3 linked regions of the Homo sapiens genome follow. The protein of the gene in region 1 purifies or fractionates together with the protein of each later gene. This does not show direct contact. Each region holds a gene or a part of one and is shown on either strand. Other genes may lie near its edges.

Region 1 (3,500 bases):
TGCCTCAGGTATGGAATTTATAGTTTATTTGTTTACATCGTAACCATTTACATCATAATAAATGGCATTTAAAGAGTTAAATTTTCCAGTCATCCATCAACCTGCTTCAGTTGGGTATAAATGCTAATGAAGCAGGTGTCTTGATGGGAAACTTCCCTGTTTTGTCTATTCTTCTTCACCATTAGTAAATATAACCCTGTTAATTATACATACTTATTTTTTTCAGGATGAGCATGTAATAAAACTAACTCAAGAACTAGCTCAGAAATTGGGATTTAAAATAAGAAAAGCGTATGTCAGAGCTGAGGTAAGCTGGAGTTCTCTGCATAAGGTGTTTTCATTTTGTTTTAGAACTTGGAGTCAGTTCTGTTTTTAAATTAGTGTCTTTATTTTATTTCAGCTCTCATTAAAATCAGTTCCTGGGGATGGGGCTACCAAGGTAAAGTTATTTTTTCTGTCAAAATTATATTTTTTTTTAAAGGGAAGGATGGGAGCAATTCTACTTTTAGTATTTTTGGTGTGTGTTTATTTTTGGAACCTTTTTAATTCCTCAAACACGTAATTGGCAATACCCTCCTGTCACTTTATTTATTTTTTTGAGACAGAGTCTTGTTCTGTTGCCCAGGCTGGAGTGCAGTGTCCTGATCTTGGCTCACTGCAACCTCCACCTCCTGGGCTCAAGTGATCCTCCCACCTCAGCCTCCCGAGTAGCTGGGACCACAGGCACACACCACCATGGCCTGTTAAATTTTTGTATTTTTTGTAGCGATGGGGTTTCACCATGTTGCCCAGGCTGGCCTCAAACTCCTGAGCTCAAGTGTTCCTCCTGCCTTGGCCTCCCACCAAATGCTGGGATCACAGGCGTGAGCCATCTCTTCTGGCCTCTTCTAGTCACTTTACAAAAGAACATCTACAACTCAAGTAATATATTTTAGCTGTAACCAGCATTTCCTGAATGCTCCAGTGGGGCATTTTATAGGATGTTAATAGATGTTAGGTTTCAGTGCAATAAGAGTGGTTCAGGGCCAAATACTAGTTTTGGGAGTCATTTGTGATAAAATTAACAAAGGGTTTTTTTTTGTTTTTGTTTTTAATTTTAAAATTAAAATTTTCTTGGGGCTAATAGGATGCTAATGGCTATTGTGAGTTGGGCAATGATTGGTGGCCAAATTCATCCCTGTTATTCTGCTGAATAGCCTTTGAGAAATGCTGGTCCACGAGAAATAAGTGGCAGCACTGCTAGACCAGCACCTCACCTAACACCACATGTATACAGGTTTGCGTGTTCCATTCATTTCTTGGATCTTAATTGGGAGTTGAATTTCTGTGGAAACCTGCATTGTTCTCTTAGGGTGAGTTTTTTCTTTTTTTCTTTTTTTTTTTTTTCCAAGACAGAGTCTCGCTCTGTCACCTAGGCTGGAGTGCAGTGGCGCTATCTCAGCTCACTGCAGCCTCCACCTCCCGGGTTCAAGCAGTTCTCTTGCCTCAGCCTCCTGAGTAGCTGGGATTACAGATGCCTGCCACCATGCCTGGCTAATTTTTGTATTTTTAGTAGAGACAGGGTTTCACCATGTTGGCCAGGCTGGTCTCAAACTCCTGACCTCGTGATCTGCCTGTCTCGGCCTCCCCAGGTGCTGGGATTACAGGCGTGAGCCACTGTGCCCGGCCTAGGGTGAGTTTTACTGATTGTTTTATGGCTTAGAGTCCTGAAAATATTATAACCCATTGTTTGGTTTAATTTCTAGGCTTTGAACCATTCTGTGGAAGATATTGAGCCAGGTATGTTTTCACATATCATCTTAACAATTTGAATAGTGCCAGCTTTGTACCTGATGTCTTTGTATGTGATGTATTGTCAAATAATATCGCTGTGTGGTTATATTCATATTAATGTATTAATATGAAAGTGAAAATGATTTCCAATGCTCCCTTTGTGCCTTTGGATGTGCCAGTGAGTGACTGAAAAGTGTTGGATGTTAGTAAGCAATCACTGACACCCACTGTGGCCTTGCCACTGTCTGATAGCTGTGCCCAAAGAGAGATACAGGCATTTTGTGAAAGAAGGATAAGTTTTCACACGTGACTGTATCTGTTTGGAATTGCTTTACTATACTGTCAATTTTATTATTTTTATAATTGCCTTCATATTTTCATCTTTGTATCTCTATTATTGGGGATTAATGGTATTATTATGTAAGTACGATGAAAGTGACTGAGTACATTTCCATCTGTGTTACAGATTTATTAACTCCAAGGCAAGAAGCAGTTCCTGTTGTCTCTTTACCGGCACCCAGTTTTTCTCATGAAGTTGGAAGTGAGCTGGCCTCAGTTCCTGTTATGCCCTTAACTTCTATTTTGCCACTACAAGTGGAAGAGAGCGCTCTGCCATCTGCAGTGCTGGCAAATGGAGGAAAGATGCCCTTCACTATGCCAGAAGCTTTTCTAGATGATGGAGATATGGTCCTTGGAGATGAACTAGATGACCTGCTTGATTCTGCACCTGAAACTAATGAAACTGTTATGGTAAGTTTCAGTGTTACTCAAGTTTCTTCTGAAGACAGAGTTAACTTTTTAAAAATTGTAATATAACTTGATAGACTTTTTCAGTATTGCATATAGGCTGAATTTGGGGGTTTTTTTAACCTTGAAAGTTACTTTTTTTCTTCTCTACTGAAACTGGTTAATTTGATCATTTTGAAATAAAAAAAGAATGCTATCTAGTAATTAGCCAATTTTTTTCCAATTCATATTGGGATCTCATATTATGGAAAGGGCAAAGATAACATTCTGATAAAAAATAGGCGTTTGATATTTAAGAAAAAATGAATTATATAGATTAAAGACTTCTTATTCTTTTTATTTATTTATTTTTTTTTGAGACGGAGTCTTGCTCTGTTGCCCAGGCTGGAGTGCAGTGGCGCAGTCTTGGCTCACTGTAAGCTCCGCCTCCCGGGTTCACACCATTCTCCTGCCTCAGCTTCCTGAGTAGCTGGGACTACAGGCGCCCGCCACCACGCCTGGCTAATTTTTTTGTATTTTTAGTAAAGATGGGGTTTCACTGCCTTAGCCAGAATGGTCTTGATCTCCTGACCTCGTGATCCACCCGCCTCGGCCTCCCAAAGTGCTGGGATTACAAGCGTGAGCTACCATGCCCGGCCTCAGGACTTCTTATTCTTAAAGATAATCCTCTAGCAACCACATACTTTAAAGCGGGGTTCAGCCAACTGTAGCCCACAGGCTAAATCTGGCCTATTACCTGTTTTTGTATGGCTTGCAAACTAAGAATATTTTTTACAATTCTTAAATGGTTGAGAGAAGAACAAAAAAGAGAATAATATTTTGTGACATATGGAGATTATATGAAACTAGCCTGGGTAACCATAGCAAGGGCACATCTCTACAAAAAATTAAAAACAGCCTGGCATAGTGGTGCGTGCCTGTGGTCCCACTGCTTGGAAGGCTGAGGGTAGAGGATCACTTGCGCCCAGGAGGTTGAGGCT
Region 2 (4,027 bases), on another chromosome or scaffold:
GTGCTGTGAATTCTACCACCTTAATGGCGCTAACATCTATCCCCTCCTCTATTCCCACTGCCAATGCCTTGTTTAATGTTCTTATCACTTGTCTGGAGTACTGCAATGGCCTAAAAATGGGTCTCCCTGCCCCAAGCCTTGCTTTTCCTGACCATTTTCACTTTCTACTTTTACTCATGAAGCTTCCTTTGCCCGGAATTAAGTCCTTCCCAATTTGTCTCCTCCAACAACTGCAAGGGCGGTCCCCTAGCTTGCTCCAGCGTCGGGGATAACTGACTTTCCTACACCAGCTACAGTCAGACCTGCACCCGGATTTCTAGGACTCTTATCTATGTAGATAGATAAATACATTTTTTTGAGACAGTGTCTTGCTCTCACTGCAGAGGCTGGAGTGCAGCGGCGCGATCACGGTTCACTGCAATCTTGAACTCCCCAGGTTCAAGCGATCCTCCCACCTCAGCCCCCCGAGCATTTGTGACTACAGGCGCGCGCCAACATGCCCATTTAGTTTTTGTCTTTTTTGTAGAGACGGGGTTTCACTATGTTACCCAGGCTGGTGTCGAACTCCTGAGCTCAAGCGATCCGCCCACCTCGGCCTCCCAAAGTGCTGGGATTACAGGCTTGAGCCACCAAGTCAAATGGGCTTTATACTTACAAAGTACCTTTGCATACCTTATTTCATTTTCACCTCACAATTCTCCAGCGTAGGCTGGACCGGTATTATTATGCCCATTTACTGAGAGAGGAAACTGAGAGTCAAGGCTGGGCCAGTCACACCCTGCTGCGAAATTAACGAGCATCACTTAGCAGCCTCGACATTAACCGCGCTCGCGCTCTCATCCCTTTCTGGTCCTACTCCTTGGAGAACCTTCCTGCACCTCCAAGAACTTGCCGATCGGGTCTGCGGCGGTCTGGACGAGGTCACTCCACAGGCGCCCAGGACCTTCTCATCCGTAGTGACGTGCGCCGGTGACGCCATACAGTGACGTGTGGTGACTCGACTTACCCGGAGCCAGGTGCCGGCAGGGCAGCCACACCCTGGGGCCCCCTGTTCTGGAGGGGCAGAGGGTCGGGCCGATGCGAAAAAGCCGCGGAAGCTGCCTTAGGCGACTTTCTGGGCCTGCATCGCCGGACCCAGCAGCCCGCTGTCGATCGGTTGCTAAGTGACGCCAGCGCGCAGTGGCGCGTGCGCGGCCACGGCGGAGTGCGTGAAAGCGGACGCGCGCCGCAGCAGCCGGGGCGGCGGCGAGGACGGCGGCCACGGAAGCGGCCAAGGGGGCGGTGGCGCAGAGAGGGGTGCGGAGCGGGCGGAAGAGGCGTCTGTGTCGCAGCTTGGTCTCAGAGGAGCATCGCTGGGGTGAGTAGCCGGGTCCTTGCAGGGGAGGTGGGGCCTGGCCGCACCTGCGGCGCGGGGACGCGCGCCCCCGCCGTATCCGCGCGCACCGCCCCCCGCCCCTCCGCCGCTTTTTCCGGGGGCGGGGGAGGAGCTGGGACGGGGCCTGACGAGGGTCATTTCTTGGGCCCGGGTGCTCTGGGAGAGCGGTAGCCGTCCCGTTCGCAGTCCACGAAGGTGTAGTGGGAAGTAGACGTTTCGGGGATTCGGGGTGGCTCTACCAGCCTCCCAAAGAGAGGAGTTCGAATCAGGGGCAGCCCAGGTTCCCTAGCAGTCTCGTATCCTGTCTGAGACGACGTTGCCTGGGACTGAGGAGGCGAAACCCGGGACCCCGGGGTGGGGGTTTGGAAAGTTTGGGACTGCTGGGGCCCTCATCTCCCCTGCCCTGGCCAGCCTCTGAGTAGGAGCTGGTTGTTATGGAGAGAGTTGTGAATCAGTGCCTGCGTGCGGCATCAGACACACCCACGACCTTGGGAGGGCGACCTGTCAGTATAGATCCGGGGCAGCCAACCTGTTGCCTAGAGTTTCTAACTTCACATGTATGTGCATGTGTTTCCTTGGCGTTTTAGTACATTGTTGTTACAGATTTTGAGACCAAGGTGCTGATAGGCATCCTCATTTCTTACTTCCTCATAGACTTAGTTATCTTGCTATATTTCCCAGAACCGTGTTGTGCTTTTGTCATTAGTAGATCCAAGGAAGTATGGAAGCATGTTTTGTTTGTTTTTCCTAAAGGCAGTACAGGCTGCTATTTTCTGGGCAGAAAATACGGATTCTGTTCACTGTGTGGGCGGAAAGTGTTGATGATGGGAGAACCCAGCATGTAAAGGTGTAGCTCATCCTCAGCCCTGTGCTGTCTTCTCAGTGCTCTGGACTCTATCATGGGTAGATGTATAGGGGTTGTGGTTACCATACTTGGGAGCGAGGAATATTGGAGACAGGGAAGAAGCCAGTCTTTTCTTTCTGTTGATTAAGGCAATTTGTAGAACCAGTGAAAAGATAGGCTGTACTGAAATCTAATGTTTTGTGTAAGAGGATAGAGGAAAATAAGTTCAAGGTTCTCATTTAGGTCTAAAATTCTATGATTCTGTTTCATAACTGAGAATCTGTAAAGTATGTTACCTCTTGGAACCAGTAATAACCTTGCTTTGTAACACTTATTAGATTACTCGGAATTCAAAGTGTCTTCCTCCCTCCACTGTAATAGCTTTTAGGACAGGAGTCATCTGTGTTTTCCTCCTTGCCCTATGTCTAACACATAGGAAAAATGTGCTTGCCACAGAGTAGGCATGCAATGGATATTTGTTATATAGCACACTATGCTCAAGTGGTGTATCTATGTATAGAAAGCATTGAGTTCAGTCCATCAAGTACTTAATACATGTGCCTCCCTCTGCCCAGTATCATGATAGGTGTGGGAGGAGGATTATGGAGTGAAAAATGACATAGAAGACCTGTCTTTTTTTTCCCTTTGAGAGCAGTAGTCTAGCTAGGAGATGTATAAAATAATTATAAAACCAAGTTAAGTAGCAGGTAACCAGTGCTGTTTGAGGACTATAAATGTGGTAGAAAATCAGAAAAGATAGGATGTGTAGGCTGAGTTAGGGAACTCTTTGAAAGAGGCAAGATTTGACTTGGTCTCTGAAAGAAGTTAAAATTTGTTAGGAAATAAACCAGGAGCTGAGAAAATAATAATGTGAATTTGGTTGTTGGAGGATATACCAAGACGACTTTTATGTCTGGTAACTGGAGCGGAACGTCTCTTATAGGGGAATACTGGAGAGAGATGGCTTAGCAGGTTGGGAAGGCAAAGTGTTAAGGATTAAGGCGGGCTTATCAGCATCCCACTGTTAACAAGATACAGCCTTCTTGTAAGGTGGGATAGAGGTTGTATTAATCAGAGTACAGTCTTTGACAAGAATAAGTGTTATCCTTACTTGAAAGTAAAGGATATTACGCTTGAACCAATATCAGGTTGTTAATATACTTTTGATTTCAATTACTAATTGGAATCGATGCCTCACTAATGTGCATGTATTTTAGGTAGTCAGTGGTGCATGTCTCATTATCTAAAATCTACCTGATGTACTTGGGCCATTGTATTGGAAATTTACTGAAATGATGTACCAATAGTCATCCAGTCACACTCAGTGACATAGTTTTGCTTGGGATTATCTCTCTGAGGTTTGTCTTTACTGCTGATCCTGTAAAATATACAAATGTTAGTTGGGAAAGGAGTCTTTCTGATGAACGATGCTTAAAAATACTGACCAAAGAGATTTCAGAATAATTAAAGACCCTGCTGCTGAATATTGAACCCTTGGTCTTTATTTATAACATCTTCTGTTATGTGAAAATTCTTTTGAGTGGTATGTAAACCTGAAGTTGAATTGCTAACCAAGATGTGTAAAGTTACAACTGCAAATGTTGCATTATTTAACAACTCAGCAGATACTTACTGGGTGCTGGCTATGGCGAGACACTTCGTTGGGTGCTGGGAAGACAAAGAAGTTAAGACACAGTATATGCTCAGCATACTAAGTGTTCATCAGAAGAGATAAACCACTAACCATTATGTGCTGTGACAAATTAATCACTTTTGGAATGAATAATGTGCTGGGGGAGTAGAGTGCT
Region 3 (3,500 bases), on another chromosome or scaffold:
CAAGGAAAATTCTCATATAACTCTATTAGAAAGGGGGATCCACCATGGTGTTTAAACTCACTTTAGGTCGCACTGTTGTAGAAATGGTTCAGATTTTATTAATCCTTTGCTATAATTACTTCCAATAAGAACTTCTGGAGAACTCCACTTGATTTACCAAATTGAGCTCAGCATATTAAAATGAATAGTTTTTGCCCAATGAATTTCTCCTCCCTTCCTTTCTATTCCATTGTTTATTTATTATCTGTAGTTAAAACATGTATGAGACCATTTGAGAGCATACTGTAGATACTAATTCCTGGATGCTGTGTGATGCAAAACAAACAAAAAAGCACTCATAGCATTTCAACTGTGGCAGCTATACAGACATTAGGAACTAGACAGAAAGGTAGGAGCTTGGTAGACTTATAAGGTTTTTGAGCAAGGGAGTCGTGTAATGGAGCAATACTGTTGAAAAAATATTTTTGCCAAGTTGTATAGAATTTTTTTGAGGAACATCTTTTTCAAAATATATTTTTAAAACATCCTTTGGCCTCCTCTGTGCCAAAAAGAATTCTAAGCACTTAAGATAGATATATGAATAGGAAATGGCTATGAGCTCCTAGTAAGGAGGCACGTTGATGATCTTTTATTATTGTGTCACCTATAACCATACTGCCACCACTATATTCATTTGCTGTTGTGTAGACAACACTAACATTATTTGCCCATTTTTCATTATTTGTATGTATCAGTGCTGTGCATTTTAGGTGATGGGAGTAACCAACATCATTTTATACCCCTACTATTTCAAAGAGAGAGAGATAAAAACAGATCATTTTGGTAAATTTGAGGTGTTGTAGGACCGCTTAACCCAGCCTGGAGAATTTGAGACCTTTTGGCCAATCTGATGTCTAAACCACCCAGGATGAGTACAATTCATTGCAGCAGAGTTGGGAAAGGGCCTTTCCCAAGTAGCAGAAACAAGATTTTCAAAGACTCATAGGTCAGGAAGACCTCGCAACGTGATGGACAGCAAGTAGTTTAGTAGAGCTGACTGAAGAAGAGGAAATTGGGGAAAGTGGGACAAGCAATAAGCCAGGTAAGGAGAGGTAAGCTAGTGCCAGTTTGTGATAAGTTTTCTATTTCCTGCTAAAGGTTTTGAATTTATCCTGAAGCCTATTAGGAGCTATTCAAAAATTTTTAAGTGTGAAGGTGATATGATCAGATTGCATTTAGAAAAATCTCTTTGACATCATGATGAATGATACAGCTGTAGAGAGATCAGTTGTAGGAACTTAAGAAATGATGAGGGCTGGAAATAAGGTAATTACAATAGACTTGAAAGGAAGTGAATAAATTCCAAAAGTATTAAGATGGGTTAGAAAAAACTAGATGCTGAATTGAATATGAAGCAGGATGATAATGTAATTTATTGAAGCATTCATTGAGATAGGGAAATAGGTTGATAATCAGGATTGGATAGGAGTAGGGGTGGGAAGGAATATGTCCTGCCCATGAGTCATCAGGTGGAACTATCCAGAAGCAAGTACTTATTCAGGTCCAGGTCCTATCAAGAAATGTGGCTTACCAGGAGTTTGAGGCTGCAAAGAGCTATGGTCACACCACTGCACTCCAGCCTGGGTGAGAGAGACCCTGTCTCTAAAAAAAAGAAAAGAAACATGGCTTAAATAAAGATTTGGAGACATCAGCATGTAGAGGGTGACTCAAGCCGTGAAAATGATTGAGATGAACCAGGAAAGATGCAGAATGAGAAGATAATTATTAATATTTGCTCTGAGTATACTGTTTTCTGTATCAATATCATCTGATAATCCCTCTCATTTGGCTTGTCATTTTTCCCTCCTTAATCATAGTTTCCTATTTAGACCATTTTAAAGGAAGCAGGATATCAATTACAAAAATCAAAAATAGTCCTTTTCAAAAACTGATAAATCTGAGAATAAATAATATAGTGCCATTTACAGCAGATTTTCTTTCTTTTTATTTTTCTTTTATTTTCTTTTCTTTTTTTCTAGAGACAGGGTCTCACTCTGTCACCCAGGTTGGGGTGCAGTGGTACAATCATAACTCACTGTAACCTCAAACTCCTGGACTCAAGCGATCCTCCTGCCTCAGCTTCCTGAGTAGCTTGGACTATATATAGGTGCACACTACCACATCAGCTAATTTTTAATTTTTTTGTCTCTACTATTTTGGCAAGGCTGGTCTTGAACTCCTGAGCTCAAATGATCCTCTTGCCTCGGCCTCCCAAAGTGCTGGGGTTACAGGTGTGAGCCACCGGGCCCGGCCAGATTTTCTTTTCTTATCAGTGGCTTCCTTCTAAAATACAATTTATCATCATAATAGACAATTTGGTTTCATTTTTAAAGAACATAATAATCTCTGTTTATTATTATTATGTATAATATTAATAGTGAAAAGAAAATCTATAGGTTTCATTCTTTGAAGCATTAAGTAATTTTTCCCCTGATCCTTGATAACATCATGTGTGAATAATCAACTTTGCAGATATTTGGGTAGGGTACAGAGAGAGGTATCAAGCATGTCTTGTCTGTTTTAGTTTTCTGTAATATACTTTCTCCCAATCATAACTTGCACATAGAATTGAATTATCATGGTGCATTAATAATGTACTTGGGGTTTTGCAGGTGTTCATCAGTAATGGGTCATTAAGTGATGTTGTGATTGTAGTTGCGGTCACAAATCATGAAGCTCCCTCCCCTGCCCATGGTATTAGCCTTTTTCTGGTGGAAAATGGAATGAAAGGATTTATCAAGGGACGAAAGCTACATAAAATGGGATTAAAAGCCCAGGTGAGTGATAATGTAAATCATATTCAGATACTAATTGAGTTTACTGTTAATCAGATAGGAGACTTACATAGAGGATTACATGTGGCACAATTTTATTTCCTATGCTGAATTCCTAAAATATGCTTTTCTGATGTGGTAATGAGATTTATTCTCATTTATACCACTCTATCTTTCTGATGGTCAGCAATAGAAATGAATCAAGGTATTTTGAATATCTGTTTTAGAAATGGCAAAATTAACTGCATGGTAACAAGCCATCTATTTGTAAAATGCATTAAAGAAAAATATGAAATAAAAATAAAGTGTGGCCAGGCACAGTGGCTCACACCTGTAATCCCAGCACTTTGGGAGGCTGAGGCCAGCGGATCACCTGAGGTCAGGAGTTCAAGACCAGCCTGGTCAATATGGTGAAACCCCATCTCTACTAATAATAAAAAATTAGCTGGGTGTGGTGGCAGGCACCTGTAGTCTCAGCTACTCGGGAGGCTGAGGCAGGAGAATCACTTGAACCCAGGAGGCAGAGGTTGCAGTGAGCCAAGATCACGCCACTGCACTCCAGCCTGGGCAACAGAATGAGACTCTGTCTCAAAAAAAATAAAACAAACAAACAAAAAAAACCCAGAAAATGTTCTTTCTATACATTACCAAAAATGCATGTTTTGCTTAATATGTATTAGAAATCCT

The links. The genes of interacting proteins can lie anywhere in the genome.
Region 2: the proteins of ZC3H7A (region 1) and BTBD9 purify together in Homo sapiens (affinity purification with mass spectrometry; one large-scale study listed by BioGRID and IntAct). This does not show direct contact.
Region 3: the proteins of ZC3H7A (region 1) and ACADL purify together in Homo sapiens (affinity purification with mass spectrometry; one large-scale study listed by BioGRID and IntAct). This does not show direct contact.

The regions. Positions count from the first base shown.
Region 1 is NC_000016.10:11,773,259-11,776,758, reverse strand, and holds part of ZC3H7A (zinc finger CCCH domain-containing protein 7A), read left to right. Parts: coding exon 1-8; intron 9-226; coding exon 227-307; intron 308-400; coding exon 401-439; intron 440-805; exon of another isoform or gene 806-1,352; intron 1,353-1,745; coding exon 1,746-1,779; intron 1,780-2,239; coding exon 2,240-2,523; intron 2,524-3,500. UniProt on the Homo sapiens protein: May be a specific regulator of miRNA biogenesis. Binds to microRNAs MIR7-1, MIR16-2 and MIR29A hairpins recognizing the 3'-ATA(A/T)-5' motif in the apical loop.
Region 2 is NC_000006.12:38,637,130-38,641,156, reverse strand, and holds the start of BTBD9 (BTB/POZ domain-containing protein 9), read left to right. Parts: upstream 1-1,227; 5' UTR 1,228-1,357; intron 1,358-4,027.
Region 3 is NC_000002.12:210,204,948-210,208,447, reverse strand, and holds part of ACADL (long-chain specific acyl-CoA dehydrogenase, mitochondrial precursor), read left to right. Parts: intron 1-2,651; coding exon 2,652-2,816; intron 2,817-3,500. UniProt on the Homo sapiens protein: Long-chain specific acyl-CoA dehydrogenase is one of the acyl-CoA dehydrogenases that catalyze the first step of mitochondrial fatty acid beta-oxidation, an aerobic process breaking down fatty acids into acetyl-CoA and allowing the production of energy from fats.